Regions from separate parts of the Homo sapiens genome. Here region 1 is linked to region 2. A link means that fine-mapping ties the variant in region 2 to the expression of a gene that starts in the linked region. Tissue or cell type: whole blood. Region 2 holds a variant in brackets; the other region holds the start of a gene. All regions are shown on one strand. Distances are from middle to middle.

Region 1 (8,143 bases), 93 kb after region 2:
CTTTTACAAAACTATCAATGGTCCCCATGTATCATAAGTGCAGAAAGAAAACACAATATATATTTTAGAATTTAAATCATTTAAATAAATTGGTTGCACAAAGCTCTCTTGGCGGAGAATAAAGAAAATCAAAACTTACCTGAAGTTATTAATTTATTACAGCTACTTATGCTTGCATCATCTTCTACAATTCGGTTTGTGCTCTTTTCTTTCCCAAGTAAAGTGTCCTCCAAAGGGAAGCATTTATCAGAAACGACAGTGTCTTCAACGACCACATGACTAATTTTGCTATTAGCTTCAAGTACTGAAGTGACCTCTTCCAACTGAGCAGCTTCACTAGATTCTGAATAAGAGGAACACTTAACCTGGGCTAAATTCTTTGAAGAAACTGGTAGAGACTCATCATCACTATCAAATCCAAAAGGATCTCCAGTACTTTCTTCTTCCACTTTAGGTTTCTTCGGAATTTCTTGGATATCTGGTTTGAAATTGGGCCTCTTCTGCCCTAATTTAGCCATAAATGTGGTCTCTCCCCATTTTGTGCTAAGGGTAGTCCGTTTGTTGGAAAAGACTTCATCGAATTTTGAACTGCCATTTCCACCTTTCCTACTGTATGTTTTCCCAAATCTGGATGTCATTTTGACACCAGTTTCATATTCTCTGTGAAAAAAAATTTAAGAAAACATATAATCATCAAATACAAGTGTTAAACAGTGCATATAAAAATAAAAACCTAGGGATTCTTCCCTCATGACTTTTGACACTCACCACACAGACTTTTAAATAAACAAATATGAGGAAGGGGTATAAAGAAAGGCTGATTTATTACCCTACATGCTTCCATGTCAATTTTCCTCCACAATGAGTACATATTCCTACGCTACTTACAAAGTAAAAAAACTTAATGATTAACCAACTTATAATACGATATCCATAAAGCTAACTTAAAATGAAGCATATTAAGTTCCAAATGAATTAATTTACTATTCTTATAAACATCATTTTTACCTTAAAAAATTATCTGTATAGAGGCTGGGAGGCCGAGGCAGGCAGCTCACTTGAGGCCAGGAGTTTGAGACCAGCCTGCCCAACACGGTGAAACCCCATCTCTACTAAAAATACAAAAATTAGCTGGGAGTGGTGGCACGCACCTGTAATCCCAGCTACTTGAGAAGCTGGAGCAGAAGAACCGCTTGAACTCAGGAGATGGAGGTTGCAGTGATATAATGATAACCTGTATAGGGTAATTACTTATATAAAATCTTAAGCACAGAATGTTAGTTTTTTTCAGGGCCTCAGAAATATCCAATACTTGATTAAATTTAGTTCTTTGAAATTTCATGGCACTAATTCACATGAGAAAAAAGGTCCCCAAAATGGTGCTTTTTCTCATGTTTTACAACCTGCAGCTTTTAACCCAATCTTGAAGATTCTGCTTCTTGGTGTAATGTAATTTGCGCTGTGACTTTAAAAATGTTCCTTAGATGGTCATCTCCCTAGGGAAAGAAACTATCCTTATCCTATCTGCCTTGTCCCGATAGTGCTGTGCTCATTTGCTGAGTTATATTTTCTGGGGCTAGTGAGCTCCAGCATATTACACTGTTTCATGGATTAATACAGACATAGAAACATACAACTTTTATTTTCCTTTTCAATTTATAAATGGCAAATCGATTCACCTGATTTATCTACTTCACAGGACAAAAAAAAAAATCTTTAGGGCAGTAAATCAAGAGTCAAACATTTTTTAAAACAAGTTACTTGCATTAGTTCTGTGCCTATTAAAAAGTTATAGTACTTTTTAAACATGATCAATCAGTAACCGTTTGTCTAACACTTTGACCTTTCTACAGTTCAAACATGAATACATCGAATATAACTTTAAAAAGTGAACAAGGGCCTAAGGAATGAAAAATCATTACTTTGAAAGCTACAAGAATTGAAATTATATTTGACCTATACTTTTGAATATGTTTTGATCTACACTTGTTTTCCCTTGATTAACTTAAATTCTTACCATTTATAATGAGTCACTGTCTGAGTTTTATATAAATTCAGTAGTAGACCCCCCCCCATGTTTGGTGAGAACCCAATTTTAATTTGACAAGGTAATAATTTAGTCATCATACATATCTGCGTTAAGAGAAAACAGTGTTCCTGAAGGAGATGTATTTCATCTTCCACTGCAGCTCTAACACTAACAAGTCTTACTGTCTTTCTTGTTAAGTACAGCCTAAACAAAACAGGATACTGGGCAACTACCACGGACAACAAAATAAAAATCGATTCTCTGTTCCTTCAAGAATGTAAAGCTGAGATCCTGCAGGTCTGTAAGTGTACGTACACATACACACCAACAAAGATGGAATGTTTTGGATTCACTTATGTGCTAATCATCTAAAAATACTAACCAAAGGCCAAACCAAAAATCTAGACTTGAGTTCCTTTATGCCAACATCAGAAAAACTGTTAAAATGGTTCTATAACCACAAAGCATTCACTGTTGAAAGTTTGAAGTCTTCAGATGAATACCTGACACTAAGGACTTAATTATTTTATGTGATAAAAAATAATTTTGTGCTGGCTGGGGGCGGCAGGTCACGCCTGTAATTCCAGCACTCTGGGAAGCCAAGACGGGCAGATCACCTGAGGCCAGGAGTTCGAGACCAGCCTGACCAACATGGAGAAACCACGTTTCTACTAAAAATAGAAAATTAGCCGGGCGTGGTGGCGCATGCCTGTAATCCCAGCTACTCCGGAGGCTGGGGCAGGAGAATCAATTGAACCTGGGAGGCGGAGGTTGCGGTGAGCTGAGATCGCGCCACTGCACTCCAGCCTGGGCAACAAGGGCGAAACTCCGTCTCAAAATAATAATAATAATGATAATAATAATTTTGTGCCAAAAGACCACGTCTTTTACAAATACATAGTGAAATACTGATGAAATAACGTCAGCGATTTTCCAACATTAAGGAATGAGAAGTGTATAGATGAAATAAATTTGTTTAATAGTCACTGCTAAATCCAAGCGATGGGTACAGAGAAGTTCATTATATAATATCTCCTCCTGATTGCCTTTATCGTTTCCCACAATAAAATGTCTTTGCAATGGCATTATCTAAGCGTAAAGCACTACAGATTCCAAAATAAGTGTGCAGACGTCCTTGAAGTTAAATTTTAAGTGTTTCAAGTACACAATCTTGCTCAACCTTTAAACTCCAAAGACTGTCCTAACTAAAAAGGAAAGAATGATTGACGACTAAGTCTTTTCGGTCGTTCGGCTTTTGCCCTAGCCCAAAATCAGGTCGAATTTTGAGAGAAGTGCGCTGTGATTTAAAAAAAAAAAAAAAAAAAAAAAAGCAAAAAGCCTTTATACTTCACTCCCACCCTAATCTAGCGTCTTCCCGATCCCCAAAGGCTTTAAGGGCTTCCATTAAAGATGGAAAGCGGACGGGACGAACCTGACTAACCAGAAATCCTCACCTGGGGACAGCCGGGGCGCCACGGGCAGTGGGCGCGATGGACCCCTCGGACTAGACACTCAATGCAACTTTTCTCCTCCCAACCCGCGCCGCCCAGGAAAGGGAGGTCACTTTCGACGCCCCGGAAGCCTCTGCCACCGAATCCTTAAGGCAGTGCAAGGCCCCAGTGGCGGCCAGAGGCGGATGAAACCACGGGAAAGGACTCGGGGCTGAAATCAACACACTTGACTGGGTTTGGGGAGCTAAGTCAATCAGCAGTCGCCCGAAAAAGAACTCCGAAAAAGGAAAATAAAAGGGGAAAAAAAGAGTTCCTCAGGTCATTCCCCTGCCCAACTTCCTCAGCGGCCCGGTGGGCGAGGCAGTGAGACTTCCACCGCCCGCTCCCAGCCTCTGCCTCCCCCACCCTCCCGGCTCCCTCCCGGCCTAGGCGGCCGCCCGACACCTCACTTACCCTCGGAGCCTGGCGGGTGCTTTGGCCACGGGCCGCCTCCGCCTCTCCCGCTCCCTACGGCCCGCGGGCGGGCGCGGAACCCTCGCGCGGGAGAGCAGGGCCGGCAGGTGAGAGCCGAGAGAGGCGAGGGACTCTGCTTTCGGTAAATAGGAAGCCCGGTTGGGGGGGCAGGAGCGGCGGCCCCGCAACTTCCCTCCCCGCCTCGAGCGCCGCCGGCCGGGCCCAGGCCTAGCTCTCGCTGGCCGCCACTGCTGGAGCTGGTAACAGAGCCTGCTGTGTGCCCCCGCTGGGCCGCCGCCGCCTCCTGCGCCGCCGCTTCCGCCGGTGAATGGTCAGTGCTGGAGTTTGAACAGGGCCCTGAACCATCTCAACGCCATTTGCGCTCCCGGCCCCCACCTCCTTCCTCCAACAGCCGCTCGCTCCGTCACTCCGCTTCCCACAGTCCCCGCGCGGCCGCCCGACCCCGCAGCCAATCGCGCAGCCGCTTACTCAAACCGCCGCGCAGGCGCTGCGCCCCGCATGCTCCGGCGCCCGCCATTGGCCCGGCCGCGGAGCCCGACGGGAGTTGTAGTCCAGGTCCGCGAGGTCGCGGGCCGAGGACCAGGCGCGGGAGCGGGAGCGGGCGACTGGCCGGGCCCTCCCGGTCTCGGCAGCCACTTCTAGCTCCCGGCCCAGCCGGGAGACGCAGGTGCCACGGAGATGGGCAGCCGGGCGGGTGGCGCAGTGCAGGCAGCTGTATCAATCGCTTCCCCTCCAGGGACCCGCCGGTGCCTGGGGACCGCGGGCTGTGCAGCTGTGCCGGGCCTGCGGAGGCCGCCGCCCGGGAGCTGGGAGGCAGGGGGCGCGTGGTCAAGAGCCGCCCTCGACCTGGCCTGGTCGGTCCTGGCCCGGCGTAGGTGACGATGGCGGGGACCGCGAGGCGCCGGACACCCGAGGCCACGAGCAGCGTCGCCCCTCGCTTTTTCGCGCCCCTCCAGCCCTGCAGTCCTTCCTCTAAGTCCGTCTGCCCCTCACCGATTGAAAGTGGCCCCGAGAATATTGGATGGTATTGAGCAATTATCATTAACTTTGTTGGGTGTGGTAACGGTAATGTGGTTATGGTTTTTTGTTTTTTTTTTTTTAAGACCTACTGATGTGTTGACAGAGTGATCTGGTGTCAGGACTGTAAAATACGCCTATGAAAACTGGGGGAGAGGAATAAAACAAGCTGGCAGAACGTTTTTCATCGTTGAAGCTGCGTGATGCGAGCATATGTGCTCATCATACAGTCTCTTTACTTGTGTATCTGAAATTTTCCATAATAAAAAGTTTAAAGAAGTGAACCAGCGATTGCCTCTAGGGAGGACAGTGAGGTGGCGGATGACGGGAGGAAGGAGTCTTAATTTTTCGCTGTACGCCTTTTTGTGCTATCTTAGGTTTTTCCCATTCAATGTGTTACCTAATTCAGAAAATTGGTAAGTTTTTTTTAAGGCTACCATGGGAAAACAGCGTTCTAAAGAGTAGCGCAACCAGTTCCCCCTAAGAGAGGTGCATGATTCGTCGGACTCCGACAGCCTTGGTGTTTGTTAGGCGGTTAATGGAGACCCACCTGGGAAATTAGAAAACTACTAATTGCTTTCAGTGAGAAGCCCGCCCTTCTCCCACAAATGGATAATTTGCTTTTAATGCACCCAGAAGTTATCCAGCTCCCTCCGGTATAATCGGGGAAACTCCAAATAAAGGAAAAATAGTTCAGAGACCCTGCAGCTCTTCCCAAGAGGAATTTAAGGTGGATTTTAGTGTGGTTGGATTGTTTTGCCTACCTGACTGCAGAATTTATATTCTGACATTTACAATTTCCTAAATACTGAATCAGTACTTTTTCTTGTTTCAAAATAAATCAACTTCTTCTGTAGTTTATATGAAAAACAAGTCCATGTCTTCCACTGTGGGTGGGATGCACATGACTGTTTTATTTGGGTCAGTTTTGTCTCTTTTTTTAATTGGCAGTTTAGGAACTTGTTTTTATCATTTTGTTTAAAGATCTTCTGGCAGAGGTGCAGGCTGCACTTACTATAATTATTTAGATGACAAGGTGGTGGGTGGTAATTAAAGGGTAATTATCATCAGAGGCAAAAGGTAAGATCAAAAAACCAGAAGAGGTGAGGAAACAATTGCAAGATCTTCCTGTAGGAGGGTGTCGTGATCCTCCCAAGACCAAAGGATATGTCTATTATGCCTGGCCTCTCTAGTGCTGGACACTTGGCAGGGTCAGTGCCTGCATGAGGCTGAAGTGGAAGGGCTTATTGTTTAGACTGGTGCCTTTTGAGGGCTTTTATGTGATGGTTGTGTTAAGTAATGAAACTTAGTAGTGTCAAATTCTTGCCACTCAAAGAATGATCCCCAATCAGCAGTGTAGCATCACCTGGAAGCCTGTAAGGAACGCATAATTCCTATCCCTCACCCCAGCTCCACTGAATCAGAACCTGCATTTTAACAGGATTCCCCCAGCTGATTGGGCTGCACATTAAAGTTTGACAAGCACTGATTTAAAGTATACCCATAGCATTTGACAGCAATCTAGTATTTTTCGTTAGGATGAGGGAGAGGAAGGGAGATGATTAAGAACCTCCTATGCATCAGGTAAGATGCTAGGCTGTTCAGGGGCCTTGTCTGCTTCCCAGTCCATTACTCTATCTTACAAGTAAGGAAATGGGAAGACTTGTATGTTACAACTAATGAGGGAGTCAAACTTTTTCTTGACGGTTGGATACCCTTTAGTACTTCTTGGTGTTCTTGAATCTGGTAGAAAGTGGTACATGATTTGAGAAGTAAAGTGTGTGTGAGTGTGTGTGTGTGTGTGTGTGTGTGTGTGTATTTAGTCTGTGGAAGCTTAGTATATGAATATTAAGCAGAGCTCTTCTGGGCTCTGTACCCTTGTGTGGCTCACACTAAAGACACCCCTCGGGCCCCTCCTGGAGGGAGTTCAGACTCCTGGCCCTGCAGGCTGTACCACCACCTTAACCCCTTACCTCCCTGCTTCCACTGAGGCAAGCAAATGCCCTGAAGTCCCCTCATTCCCTTACCAGGGCCCTGGGTTCCACACCAGAATGAGCAAACAGAACTCCAGTGTGGGTAACACATGGCTGAACAGCTTTTTGTTGTATTGTTTTTGTTTTCTTAGTTCTCTCAGCTCAGGCTCCATCCCCCTGGCCACCTCAACCCCTAGAATGGTTGTCTCCATTTCATGAGAATCTTCACACTAACATCAAGTAGCCAGTAGGTGCTTTTGGTTTTGCTAGAATGCCTGTGTGCAAGCTCTCAGATACCTGATTTTCTTTCCCCCACTGAATGTTGTGTTTGTCAGAAACTGAAATCATGGATCAGAGCCAAGTTTGTAGTACCCTTAGGAGGGGCCTCTGCCCTCCTGTGTGCTGCCTGGGTGAGGACAGAACCCCCTAACCTGGAGCTCCACTTGAGTGGGCCCATACCTGTACTTTCCTCTGAAAAAAGAAAATCCTGCAAAGAAAATAGAAGACATCTGTTCTGCCATTGCCATGCCCTTGTTCTAGCCCAGACATGAGAACTGTCAGAATTGGAGTTACTAAATAGAACTTTTAGTCTTTTTCTGATAATGTGTAGTAAAGTGTATTACAACTTATAGAATTCTATTTAGGGAACTACAGGTCAGAAACTACCATATTGGTAGCAGTCAATTTTTCTTTGCCATCGGATGTGGAATAAAATGTTAAATTGTACACTTGCATGTTGTGGTTATATTACAAAGCTCTACGAGATGTGGGCCAGGCCCTGCCCTTTGCTCATGCAGCCCCAACTTTCTGCTCTGCCCACACCTGACTCCTTGCTGTTTCCCCACCTTAGGGCCTTTGTATTTCCTATTCCCTCTGCCTACAACTCCCCCAGATACCAGCCTGCTTCAATTCTCTCCTCTAGGTTTTCACTCAGATGGGACTTTTCAATGAATCTCCCCTGACCAACCTATCTTAAATTGTTGCAACATCCTCACTCCTAAATGTCACTGTCCCTGCTTTACTTTCTTTAAGGGCATTTATCTTCCCATCTAACATATCAGGCATTTTGCATGTTTATCTTAAATGTTGTGCTCCCTCTGAAGGCAGGGATCTCTGCCTGTCTTGTTTTCTGCTGCAACCCTAGCACCTAGAAGACTGCCTGGCACAAGAGTAGGTGCTCAATAAATATTTGTTGAATA
Region 2 (8,192 bases):
TGGAATCAACAATTCCACTGTGTCTACCAACGGATAAATGGATAAAGAAAGGTGGTGGCCAGGCACAGTGGCTCACGCCCGTAATCCCAGCACTTTTCAGGGCCAAGGCGAGCGGATCACTTGAGATCAGGAGTTCAAGACCAGCCTGGCCAACACGGAGAAACCTCATCTCTACTAAAAATACAAAAATTAGCCTGGTGTGGTGGCACGCACCTGTAATCCCAGCTACTGAGGAGGCTGAGGCAGGAGACTCGCTTGGACCGGGGAGGCAGAGGTTGCAGTGAGCTGAGATCATGCCACTGCACTCAGCCTGGGTGACAGAGTGAGACTCCATCTCAAAAAAAAAAAAAAGAAAAAAGAAAAAAAGAAAAGAAAAAGAAAATGTGGTATAGATACACAGTGGAATATTATTCAGCCATAGAAAAGAATAATATTGCCAGGAACGGTGGTTCACACCTGTAATCCCAATACTTTGGGAGGGTGAGGCAGGAGGATAGCTTGAGCCTGGGAGGTCAAGACTGCAGTGAGCTGTGATCACATCACTGAATTCCAGCCTTGGCAACAGAGCAAGACTCTGTCTCGAAAAAATAATAATAAAAAAATAAATAAAATCCTGTCCCTTGCAACAACATGGCTGGAACTAGAGAACATTATGTTAAGTGAAATAAGCCAGGCACAGAAAGACAAGTGTCTCATGTTCTCACTGATGGGGGAGCTAAGAAAATTGATCTCTTGGAGGTAGATAGTAGAATGATGGCTACTAGATGCTGGGAAGCATAGCATTCAGGGAGGATAAAAAGGAGCTGGTTAATGGGTGATGGAACTAAAGCATGTGATTAGTGCTGCAAAAATATAGTTAGATTGTAGGAATAAGATCGAGTGTTTGGTAGCACAATAGGGCGACTATCATTAACAATAATTTATTGTATATTTCAAAATAACTACAAGAGTAGATTTGGAATGTTCCCAGCACAAAGCAATGCTAAATGTTTGAGTTGATGGATATTCTAATTACTTTGATTTGGTCATTACACAGTGTACGCTTGTATCAAAATATCACATGTACCCCATAAATATGTAAAACTAATATGTATCCATGAAAATTAAAAATTAAAAAGAGAAAGTTCCAGTTGCTTCACCTTTTTGCCAACGCTTGGTGTGGTCAGTCTTTTAATTTTAGACATTCTAATATGTATGAGTTATACACTATCATGGTTTTAATCTTTATTTCCCTAAAGACTAATGATGTTTAGGATTTTTTCTTGCACTTATTTATCTTGCTTATATTTTCTTTTGTGAAGTACTTGTTTAAATATTTTGCCTACTTTTTTTTTTTTTTTTTTTGAACTGGAGTCTTACTCTGTTGCCCAGGCTGGAGTGCAGTGGCACAATCTCAGTTCACCGCAACCTCCACCTCCCAGGTCCAAGCGATACTCCTGCCTCAGCCTCCCGAGTAGCTGGCATTACAGGCGTGCGCCACCATGCCCGGCTAATTTTTGTATTTTTAGTAGAGATGGGGTTTCGCCAGGTTGGCCAGGCTGGTCTCCAACTCCTGACCTCAGGTGATCCACCCGCCTCAGCCTCCCAAAGTGCTGGGATTACAGGCGTGAGCCACCATGCCCGGCCAATTAAATGCTTTTTGTGCAGTCACTGAGAAGGCCTCATGATTTTCCTCACTTATGTGATAAGTTACATTTGTTGATTATTCTAATGTTAATTCACCACTGCATTCTGTGATAAATTCAACTTGGACATTGTATTAGCTTTTTATATATTTCTGGACTCAATTTTCTAACATATTGTAAAGGAATTTATTATCTATGGTTATTAAGGAGATTACCCTGAAATTTGTCTTTCTCTTCTTGTCCTTTTCTTATTTTTATCGTTATATAGCCTTCATTGAATATTTAGGGGAGTTTCTGAGTTCCCTCTTTTTCAATGCTCCAGAAGAATTTGTATAAGATTGAAATTATTTCTTGATAATTTAGTGGAAATAACTTTCAAAACCATGGACTTTGTGTCCTGTGTGTTTAGAAATCTTTTAATAATACTGATTCAATTTCTTTAGAAATTGTAAAACTCTATCCCTTTTTGTGTCGGGTTTTTTTTTTTTTTTCTTTTTTGAGACAGTCTTGCTCTGTTACCCAGGCTGGAGTGCTGTGGCATGATCTTGGCTCACTGCAGACTCTACATCCCAGGTTCAAGGGATTCTTGTGCCTCAGCCTCCCAGCTAGTTGGGATTACAGGCGTGTGCCACCACGTGAAGCTAATTTTTGTATTTTTAGTAGAGACAGAGTTTCACCACGTTGCCCAGACTCGTCTCGAACTCCTGATCTCATGTGATTCACCAACCTCAGCCTCCCAAAGTGCTGGTATTACAGGCATGAGCCACCACATCTGGCCAGGTTTTTCTTTTTTGCTATATTATTCTAGGAATTTGCCCACTTCATTTAAGTCATAAATTCATTAGCATGCATTTATTCAGAGTAGTTAGTTAAAACTTTTTTAATCTCTAGTGTTTCTGTACTCATATATTGTCTTTTTAATATTTATTTATTTCATACAGGATAGCATGTATTGATTTTTTTTTCTTTTGAAATGGAGTTTCGCTCTTGTTGCCCAAGCTGGAGAGCAATGGGGCAATCTCGGCTCACTGCAACCTCTGCCTCCTGGGTTCAAGCAATTCTCCTGCCTCAGCCTCCCAAGTAGCTGGGATTACAGGCATGCACCACCACGCCTGGCTAATTTTTTGTAGTTTTAGTAGAAACAGGGTTTCACCATGTTAGCCAGGCTGGTCTCGAACTCCCAAGCTTGTGATCTGCCCGCCTCAGCCTCCCAAAGTGCTGGGATTACAGGCGTGAGCCACCACGCCTGGCCCACATGTATTGATTTTTATACTTACTTTTGTAATTTGTATTTTATTCCCTCCTTCTTGGTGAGTGTACTCAAAATTTAGACTTTTCAAAGAATCCATTTTTCACCAATTTTAAAAAATTTGCCATTATCTTCTTCCTTCTACTTATTAAGAGTTTATTCTATTGCTCTTACTCTGTCATTAAGATGAATAATATGTACTTTACAATTTTAGTCATTCTGTCTTTCAAATATAAGCATTTAAAGATAAAAATTTTGCTGTATCCCGTAACTTTTTTTTTTGTTTTTTGAAACGGAGTTTTGTTCTTGTTGCCCAAACTGAAGTGCAATGGCACGATCTTGGCTCACTGCAACCTCTGCCTCCGGGGTTCAAGCGATTCTCCTGCCTCAGCCTCCCAAGTAGCTGGGATTACAGGCATGTGCCACCACGCCCGGCTAATTTTGTATTTTTAGTAGAGACAGGGTTTCACCGTGTTGACCAGGCTGGTCTCGAACTCCTGACCTCAAGTGATCTGCCCGCCTCAGCCTCCCAAAGTGCTGGGATTACAGGCGTGAGCCACCGTGCCCTGCACCATGACTTTTGATATATTTTATTTTCATTGTCATCCAGTTCTAATTTATTTTTTAAATTAAAATTTTTATTTTTTTGAGACAGGGTCTCACTCTTTCACCTAGGCTGGAGTGCAGTGGCTCAATCAGGGCTCACTGCAATCTTCGACCCCTGGGTTCAAGTGATCCTCCCCGCTCAGCCTATCAAGTAGCTGGGATTACAGGCGCGTGCCACCACACTTGGCTAATTTTGTATTTTTCATAGAGATGGGGTTTTGCCATGTTCCCCGGGATGGTCTCGAACTCCTGGGCTGAGGTGATCCACCCGCCTCAGCCTCCTAAAAGTGCTGAGATTACAGGTGTGACCCACTGTCACCAGCCTAGTTCTAATT[T/TA]AAAAAAAAAAAAAAAAAATTATGGCCAGGTGCGGTGGCTCACGCCAGTAATCCCAGCACTTTGGGAGGCTGAGGCGGGTGGATCATTTGAGGTCAGGAGTTTGAGACCAGCCTGGCCAACCTGTGAAACCCTGTCTCTACTAACAATACAAAAATTAACTGGGCATGATGGCATGCACCTGTAATCCCAGCTACTCGGGAGGGTGAGGCAGGAGAATCACTTGAACCCAGGAGTTGGAGGTTGCAGTGAGCCAAGATCATACCACCGCTCTCCAGCCTGGGTGACTGAGCAAGACTCCGTCTCAAAAAAAAAAAATAAAAATAAAAATAAATTATAATTGATTTAACCCATGAGTTATCAGGTTGTGTTTTTTACATTTCTAAGCATATAGAGGTTTTCATTTAACTGCTTATTACTGTCTTTTAAATAAATTGTTCTGAATGTTTTCACCTTAGATAACATTGCCTGTTCTACAATTTTGTATAAATTGATGCATATTATAGGTCTCAAACTCGTGGTCTCAAGCGATCCTCCCACCTTGGCCTCCCAAAGCACTGGGATTACAGGTGTGAGCCACTGCACATGGCTGTATTATATGTATTTTGAAAATTCAGCTTCTTCCACTGAGCGTTATGAATGTGAAATTTCTTCATGTTGTTGATTTAAAAAGTAATTCGTTCCTCTTTATTACTAAGTAGTATATTATTGCATAAATCTATCAATTTGTTTATTGTCTGCGGACGGACATTTGAGTTGTTTCCAGTGTTTGGCTATTTGTTGATAAAATGACTGTGAACATTTTCCACAACTTTTTCTGTTGAATATTTTCATTTCTTCTGGATAAAGTGAAATTGTTAGGTTGAAGAACAGATAAATATATATATAATATATATTATATATATTTTATATATAAATATATAAAATATAATATATATTATATATAAATATATAAAATATAATATATATTATATATATAAAATATAAAATATATATATATATATATTTTAGCTGTGGCCCAGGCTGGAGTGCAGTGGTACAATCATGGCTTATTGTAGCTTCAACCTCCTGGGCTCAAGCAATCCTCCTGCCTCAGATGGGACTACAGGCATGTGCCACTATGCCCAGCTTTTATCTATCTATCTATCTATCAATCTATCTATCTATCTATCTATCTATCTATTCATTGGCAAAGATGAGGTCTCACCACATTACCCAGGCTGGTTTTGAACTCTTGCCCTCAAGTGATCCTCCTGCCACGGCCTCCCAAAGTGCTGGGATTGCAGGCATGAGCCAGTGCACTCAGCCCAGACAGGCATAACTTTATTCTCACAAGGAATTGACAAAACTCGTCCAAAGTGGTGTTATGATTTTACATTCCCAACAGCATTAAAAAAAAGTTCCAGTTGTTGATGTGCCACCATTTGGTGCTGTCATCTTTTGAACTGGCCATTCTACTGAATACACAATAGCATCTCATTGTAATTTATGGGTTTTTTTATCTTTTTTTTTTTTTTTTTTTTTTGAGATGGAGTCTCACTCTGTCTCCAGGCTGGAGTGCAGTGGCAAGATCTCTGCTCACTGCAACCTCTGCCTCCCGGGTTCAAGCAATTCTCCTGTCTCAGCCTCCCCAGTAGCTGGGATTACAGGTGCATGCCACCACACCCAGCTAATTTTTGTATTTTTAGTAGAAACGGGGTTTCACCATGTTGGCCGGGATGATCTCAATCTCCTGACCTCGTGATCCACCTGCCTCGGCCTCCCAAAGTTCTAGGATTACAGGCATGAGCCACCACACTTGGCCACTTTTTATTTTATTTATTTATTTATTTTTGAGATGGGAGTCTCCCTCTGTCACCCAGCCTGGAGTGCAATGGCACGATCTCGGCTCACTGCAACCTCTGCCTCCGGGGTTCCAGTGATTCTCCTGCCTCAGCTTCCTAAGTAGCTGGGATTACAGGCATCTGCCATCACGCCCGAAGAATTTTTGTATTTTTAGTAGAGATGGGGTTTCACCATGTTGGTCAGGCTGGTCCTTGAACTCCTGACCTCGTGATCCACCTGCCTCAGCCTCCCAAAGTGCTGGGATTACAGGCATGAGCCACCACGCCTGGCCAATTTTTATTTTATTTTTGAGACGAGGTCTGGCTCTATCTCCCAGGCTGGAGTACAGTGGCATGATCTCCACTCACTGCAGCCTCCATCTCCTGGGCTCAGGTGATCCTTCCACCTTAGCCTCCCAAGTAGCTGGGACTACAGGCACAGGCTGTCACGCTCAGCTAATTTTTTGTGTTTTAGTAGAGACGGGGTTTCATCATGTTGCCCAGGCTGGTCTCGAACACCTGAGCTCAGGCAATCTGCCTGCCTCAGCCTCCCAAAGTGCTGGGATTACAGGCCTGAGCCACCACGCCTGGCCTCGTTCTTTCTTTTTGTAGTAGCTTTATAGTTTTAGCTTTTACATTGAGATCTATGATCCATATGGAATTAATTTTTATGTTTAGCATAAGGTAAGGGTCAAGATTTTTTTTTTAAATATGGGTATTCACTTGTTTCATAACCATTTGTTAAAAATATTTTAATTTCTACATTAAATTGCTCTGGTGCCTCTGTCAAAAATCAGTTGACCGTGTATCTGTTGACCTATTTCTAGGCTCTGCCTTCATTGTATTGATCTTGTCCTCATGCGAATACATGGTCTTGACCATTGTGGTTTTATCGTGAAACTAGAAGGTCAATAGTGTATGTCCTCCAGCTTTGTTATTCTTCAAGATTATTTTTACTATTTTATGTCCTTTGCATTTCCAGGTGAATTTTAGAATCAGCTTGTCAATTCTACTTTTATACAAAGTAGAAGTGTTGATATTGGAAATTTCTGCCTTGTTTTTGATCTTCAGAGGAAAGCATTCAGTGACTCATCAAGTTCAATTATTGTACACTTTTCATACCTGCTCTCTTCTGAGGGCGGGGATCAAGATTAGTTCCTATTTCTTTCTCTTTTTTTGAGACAGGGTCTCATTCTGTCACCCAGGCTGTAGGGCAGTGGTGCAATCACACCTCACTGCAGCCTCGACCTCCTGTGCTCATGAGATTCTCCTGCCTTAGTAGCTGCTAGTAGCTGGGACCACAGGCGCACACTACCACACCTGGCTAATTTTGTATTTTTTATAGAGACAGGGTTTCGCCATTTGCCCAGGCTGGTCTCAAACTCCTGTGCTCAAGCAATCCACCTGCCTTGGCCTCCCAAAGTGCTGGGATTACAGGCGTGAGCCACTGCGTTGTTGCTTGTTTCTTAACCATGAATAGGTGTTGCATTTTGGAAAATGGTTTTTCTGTATCTAAAGGATAATAAACCAATTTTACACTCCTTTGATAAATACCTTGTTGTGATGTATTATACTTTTTACATAGTAATGGATTTGATCTTGTAATACTTTGTTAAATATTTTGCATCTATAAAAATGTTGCTATTTTTTTTCCTTGCAATATCTTTGCGCTTTGTATTGGAGATATATAGGTAAGGCTTATACACTGATTTGGTAAGTATTCTCTTCTCTACTTTCTGTGTAAATGGATATTAATTCTTCCTTGTGTTTCATGTAATGCATCAATGAAGTCTTCTGGGACAGGACTTATATGTAGATTTTAAAGTACAAATTCAATTGTTTTGAATATAGGGCTAATGAGGCTTTCTGTTTCTTGAATTAGTTTTGGTAAGTTTGTTTTGCAAGGAATTCGTTCATTTAATTTGTAAAATTTACTGGCTTAAATTATTCATAAAATTCTTTATCTGACCGGGTGTGGTGGCTCACGTCTGTAATGCTTGCACTTTGGGAAACCAAGGCAGGAGGATCAGAGCTAAGTAGTTCAAGACCAGCCTGAGCAACAGAGTAAGACCTTGTCTCTATTAAGTAATAAAAATATTTTAATTATAAAAATTTTAAAATTATTTATCCTTTTAGGCCTATAGCATCTGTATTCCATCTTTTATTTCTGACGTTGATAATTTGTGTTTTTTTCTTTCTTGATTAGTCTTGCTAAGGATTTATCAGTTTTATTAACTACAAAGAATCATCTTTTGGCTTTGGTAAAATTTTTCTATTACTTGTCTTTTATTATATTAATTTCTGCTCATATTTTTTTCCTTGAACTTACTTTAGGTTTAATTGTTCATCTAGCTTCACATAGAAATTAGGATAATTTAAGCCTTCTTAATTTTCCTCTAAGCACTGCTTTAAGTGTATTCCACAAATTTTGATATGTTGCATTTTGTCATTCAGATCATTAAACTTTCTAATTCCCCTTCAAAGACTACTAGGAAGTGTATTATTTTTCAAAGTTTTCTAGATCTGTATTGACTTCTGATTTAATTCCTTGGGGTG

What was found. PIP is the estimated chance that this variant, and not a neighbour inherited with it, causes the effect.
Region 1: it holds the start of WAPL, and the variant in region 2 is fine-mapped to the expression of WAPL in whole blood (INTERVAL, PIP above 0.99).

Annotation. Positions count from the first base shown.
Region 1 is chr10:86,517,432-86,525,574 of GRCh38, forward strand. It overlaps WAPL (WAPL cohesin release factor), which reads right to left and starts at 4,361. Exons shown (of 19, transcript NM_015045.5): 1 at 3,934-4,361; 2 at 140-660. The coding sequence starts at 638. WAPL-DT (WAPL divergent transcript) reads left to right here and starts at 4,516. Exons shown (of 2, transcript NR_186498.1): 1 at 4,516-4,978; 2 at 5,078-7,670. RefSeq lists silencers at 3,855-4,274, 4,415-4,974.
Region 2 is chr10:86,424,334-86,432,525 of GRCh38, forward strand. No RefSeq gene overlaps it. Among named protein-coding and RNA genes, the nearest start is that of GRID1, 62 kb to the left of the region's middle. RefSeq lists an enhancer at 7,132-7,301. The variant T/TA (reference allele first, on the strand shown) is at 3,816.